Regions from separate parts of the Homo sapiens genome. Here region 2 is linked to region 1. Evidence: fine-mapped expression QTL. A gene starts in region 1. The other region holds a variant in brackets. All regions are shown on one strand. Distances are between the middles of the regions. Region 1 holds the start of GPR33 (G protein-coupled receptor 33). Region 2 overlaps LOC105370438 (a long non-coding RNA gene).

Region 1 (2,802 bases):
AGTTGCAAAATTTTTCTCTAAAGTAGAAAAATGATTCTTCATGAAAATACCTTAGTAGTCTTCTTTGGGAATAAAAAGTGGAGTCTGAAGCATATGAAATGGACAGGCAATGGCAAATAAAAGAATGAGAACTTGAGAGAGAGGTTTTGTGAAGGCCCTGGGACCTTAAGAAGAGGGTGGAAGACGAGGATGATTTTAAGACAGGCAGCACAGAAAAAAACTCAGCAGGATGTTAGGAGCCCTACAGAGGAGAAAGGGTCAATGAAGTATTCTGAGAAGCAGAAATGACACAGGGGATTTAAAAATAGGAATGTCTAATAATTATAATCTATTTGCTATGCTTTGATATGGTATAGTGTCCCTTTTCCCCATTAACCCTCAGCTGTCTTGTGTTGGTGGTGGTTCTGGGGAATCAAAGTCTCTGTGGTGTTTTTATCCATGGAGTATGTGTAGAGGTGTGTCTGTGATCAGTGTATGTGTATCTCAGTGTATTTGTGTGATCTCTGTGTATGTATGTGTCTGTGGTCTTTGTATGTTTTTCTGTGGAATGTGTGTATGTGTAGTGTTTGTGTGTTTGTGTTGTATGCGTGTGGTCTCTTTATGTGTGTGCATATGAGAAACTAGATACCCGAATTATGGGAAAGATTTTTTTTTAATTGTGCATCTGAGCTCTAGAAGGACATCTGAAAGTAATGTAGAACATGGGCAAAATCATAGTAAAACTTTTCTGATCAATGTTGGTAGTGATTCTGAATATCATATAAAGTTTCCTAGGAATTCTGATTTATTGCACATAACCAGGAGATTTCTTCATCCTTAAACACCTTTAAAATGATGTTAAAGTACTTGAGAATAAATAAATGGGGCAGATCTCAGACTCTGGCATCCCACAGACCTGGGTTTGTATCCTACCTCTACCACTTACCAGCTCTGCAAGTTCAGATAACTTGTTGAGACTTTTTCTCCTGCTAAGCCCCTCAGTTTTTTTTTTTTTTTTTTTTTTTTTCAGATGGAGTCTTGCTCTGTCCCCCAGGCTGGAGTGCAATGGCGTGATCCTGGCTCACTGCAACCTCCGCCTCCTGGGTTCAAGTGATTCTCCTGCCTCAGCCTCCTCAGTAGCTGGGACTACAGGCACCTGCCACCATGCCTGGTTAAATTTTGTATTTTTAGTAGAGATGGGGTTTCACCATATTGGCCAGGCTGGTCTTGAACTCCTGACCTTGTGATCTGCCCGCCTCAGCCTCCCAAAGTGCTGGGATTACAGGCATGAGCCACCGTGCCCAGCCACAGGCGGCTTTCAGGAAGACCCCACCTCCACTTGGGAACACTGAGCTGCTGGCGCAGGGGAAGGCCACAGGAGCATCGGGAAGCTAATGTGCAATAAGCCTAGAGGGTCAATTCGGATGATAGCTCTAGGATAAACCTACTAGTCCAGAGAATCTTACCTCAGACCTGTATCTTCATGCCAGATTGGTCTTGAGCAGGCCAAAGTGACTCTACACCATCAATTTCTCACTAGGAACAGAGTGAACAAAATCAGTGACACTTTGCCTTCATTTCATATGTCTTTCTTCTTGCTGATGCTACTCCCCAAGCTTGAACTTGCTATTATTTAAATACTCAGTGAGGTCTTTTCCTCTTTTTGGTTCCTTTTTTTCTGTGGAATTTACTGCTATAGAGGTATAGAGAAATGAGTACTTCTTCAAATTATTTCTCCATTTTGAGGGGCATTAAAAAAAATCTGTAAGTGACCAAGTGCAGTGGCTCACACCTGTAGTCCCAGTGCTTTCTGAGGCCGAGGCAGGAGGACAACTTGAAGCCAGGAGTTAGAGACCAAAATAAAAAAAAAAAATAGCCGGGCCTGGTGGTGCACACCTGGCACACCTGTAGCACTAGCTACTCAGGAGGAGAGGCTGAGGCAGGAGGATCACTTGAGCCCGGGAGTTCGAGGCTGCAGTGTGCTATGATCATGGTGGTGAATAGCCACCACACTCCAGCCTGGGCAACAGAGTGAGACCCTGCCTCTCAAAAGAGAGAGAGAGAGAGAGAATGAATTGCATAAGCTAAGTCATTTCATTTAAAAGGTTAATAAACTTGTTTCGGGTGTTAATTCCCTTCTCGTATTGGGTCATCCCGCCAGGCACCCACTCTGCCTCAACTCTAGGGTGTTTATTAGCAGATGGATGGATGGTGTTGGGTACATAAGGAGGTGGTAAATATCAGGCAGAGACCAAAATAAACTCTGGAAATGAGCTATCTAATCTTTCTGGACAGAAAATAGTTAGAAGGAAAAACTTAAATACTGAGTTTCACATTAAAATGGAATTTATGAGGACAGGCCAGAGATTTATATTATTCAGTTTGGGTTGATGAAGACTGACAGGCAGAACAATCTGCATTTGTATGATGGTTGTAGAACGGTTGGAAAAAAACAGAATTGGTTACTACATCCTAGAAGATGATCTCATTATAAGGAATCTTCCAACACAGGTAATGCATTTATGAACCATTACTGACTGAGTTCTACATTTCCTATGTTCTTCTCTCTAATCTATCTCTGAAATTTTTTTTGGATCCCCTTCTGTGCTGACCTCAGTGTCCTGATTTTTTTCCTGCCTGCTTTCCTCTTCATCTCTTCATTACCAGTGGAGAAAATACATCAAAACCACTGTGCAGCGTTGGTGGTCAAGAGTTTAGGAATCAAAACCATTACCCAGTCTTTGTTAGACTTAGAATTTTAAAACTTTAACTGCTAGATTGTAGCCTTATTAAAAATAGGCTTAAATTTCAGTTCTTAATTCA
Region 2 (2,802 bases), 61 kb after region 1:
TTGTATATATTTATGGGGTACATGTGAGATTTTGATATAAGCATATAATGTGTAATGATCAAATCAGGGTAACTGGGATAACCATCACCTCAACCATTTATTTTTTTTTTTTTTTTGGGGTTAGGAAGATTCCAATCCCACTCTTCTATTTATTTTTAAATATACAATGAATTATTATTAACTGTAGTCACCCTATGTTGCTACTGAACACTAGAGCTTATTCCTTCTATCTAACTGATTTTTGTACCTATTAACCAGCTCATATTTATCGCCCTTCCACACTGCCTTTCCCAGCCTCTGATAACCATCAATGTATTCTCTATCTTCATGAGATCAAGTTTTTCACATATGCGTGAGAACACATGATATTTGTCTTTCTATGCCTGGCTTATTTCACTTAACGTAATATCCTCCAGTTCTATTCATGTCGTTGCAAGTGACAAGATTTCATTCTTTTTTATGGCTGAATTATATCCTATTGTGTATATATACCACATTTTCTTTATCCATTCATCTGTTGATGGATGGACACTTAAGTTGATTCCATATTTTGGCTATTGTGAATACTGCTGCAATAAACATGAGAGTGCAGATATCTCTTTGATATGTTGACTCTCTTTCTGGTTATATACCCAGCAGTGGAATTGCTGGATCAAATGGTGTTTCTAGTTTTTTATTGTTTTGTTTTTTTTTTTGAGACGGAGTCTCCCTCTGTTGCCCAGGCTGGAGTTCAGTGGCGTGAACTTGGCTCACTATAACCTCCGCCTCCCGGGTTCAGGTGAGTCTCCTGCCTCAGCCTCCCAAGTAGCTGGGACTACAGGCACCTGCCACCACGCCCAGCTAATTTTTGTATTTTTAGTAGAGACGGGGTTTCACCATTTTGCCCAGGCTGGTCTTGAACTCCTAACCTTGTGATCTGCCTGCCTCGGCCTCCCAAAGTGCTGGGATTACAGGTGTGAGCCACCGCACTTGGCCAGTTTTAGTTTTTTGAAGAAGTTCCATATTTTCCATAGTGGCTGTACTAATTTATATTCCCACCAACAGTGTAGAAGGGTTCCCCTTTCTCCACATCTTCACCAGCATCTGTTATTGCCTGTCTTTTTGACAAAAGCCATTTTAACTGGGGTGAGATGATATCTCATTACGGCTTTGATTTGATCTGATAATTAGTGATGTTGAACATTTTT[A/T]AAAAACCTGAATATCTGTATATATTTATTTGTACATCTTCTTTTGAGAAATGTCTATTCAGATCTTTTTCTCACTTAAAAATCAGACTTTTTTTTTTCTGCTTTTGAGGTGTTTGAGCTTCTTATGTATTCTGGTTATTAATCCCTTGTCAGATGGGTAGTTTTCAAATATTTTCTCCCATTCTGTGAGTGGTCTCTTCACTTTGTTTCCTTAGCTGTGTAGAAGCTTTTTAGCTTGATATGATCTCATTTGCCCACTTTTGCTTTGTTTGCCTATACTTTTGAGTTCTTACTCAAGAAATCTTTGCCTGAACCAATGTCCTGGAGCATCTCCTCAATGTTTTCTTCTAGTAGTTTCAAGTTTCAGCTCTTAGATTTAGGTTTTTATTTTGATTTGACTTTTGTGTATGGTGAGAGATAGGGGTCTAGTTTCATTCTTTCTCACATGGACATCTAGTTTCCCCAGCACCATTTATTGAAGAGACTGTTCTTTTCCTAATGTATGTTCTTGGTCCCTTTATTGAAAATGTGTTGACTGTAAATGCATGAATTTATTTCTGGGTTCTCTATTCTGTTCCATTGGTGTATGTGTCTGTTTTTATGCCAGTACCATGTTGTTTTGGTTACTATAGCTTTGTAGTATGATTTGAAGTCAGGTGGCTTTGTAATATAATTTGATGCCTCTAGCTTTGTTCTTTTTGCTTATGATTGCTTTGGCTATTCTGGTTCCTTTGTGGTTCCATATAAATTTTAGGATTGTTTTTTCTATTTCTGTGAAGAATGTTATTGGTATTTTGATAGGGTTTGCATTGAATCTGTAGATTGCTTTGGGTATTATGGACATTTTAACAATATTGATTTTTCCAATCCATGAACATGGAGTATCTTTTTCCTTTATTTTTTTCATTAGTGTTTTACAGTTTTCATTTTAGAGATCTGTATTAGTCCATTCTCACACTGCTATAAAGAAATATCTGAGACTGGGTAATTTATAAAGAAAAGAGGTTTAATTGGCTCATGGTTCTGCAGGCTATATAGGAAGTGTGGCTGGGGAGGCCTCAGGAAACTTACAATCATTGTGGAAAGTGGTCATTGTAGAATGTGAAGGGGAAGTAGACACATCTTCACATGGCCAAAGCAGGAGGAAGACTGAGATGGGGGAGTTGCCACACACTTTTAAAAAACCAGATTTCATAAGAACTCTATCAGTAGAACAGCACCAAAGGAGGAAATCTGCCTGCATGATCCAATCACCTCCCATCAGGCCCCACCTCCAACATTGGGTATTACAACTCAACGTGAGATTTGGGTGGATACACAAATCCAAACCATATCAACTTCTTCTCTTTCTCCTTCTCCTTCTTCCTCTCTTCCTCTCCTCCTTCTCCTCCTTCTCTTCCTCCTCCTGCTCCTCCTCTTCCTCCTCCTCCTTCTCCTTCTTCTCCCTCTTTTTTTTTTTTGACGGTCTCACTTCCATTGCCCAGGCTGGCATACAGGGGTGCAATCTTGGCTCACTGTAGCCTCAACTTCCTGGACTCAGATGATCTTCCCACCTCAACCTCCTGAGTAGCTGGGACTACAGGTGCACACCACCATGGCTGGCTAATTTTTTGTA

Evidence for each region. PIP is the estimated chance that this variant, and not a neighbour inherited with it, causes the effect.
Region 2: its variant is the best candidate, but not a certain one, in a credible set for the expression of GPR33 in whole blood (TOPMed, PIP 0.53).

What each region holds. Positions count from the first base shown.
Region 1 is chr14:31,486,452-31,489,253 of GRCh38, forward strand. GPR33 (G protein-coupled receptor 33) reads right to left here and starts at 1,588. Exons shown (of 2, transcript NM_001197184.3): 1 at 1,446-1,588.
Region 2 is chr14:31,547,376-31,550,177 of GRCh38, forward strand. All of the region lies in intron 2 of LOC105370438 (a long non-coding RNA gene), which reads left to right. Among named protein-coding and RNA genes, the nearest start is that of NUBPL-DT, 13 kb to the right of the region's middle. The variant A/T (reference allele first, on the strand shown) is at 1,188.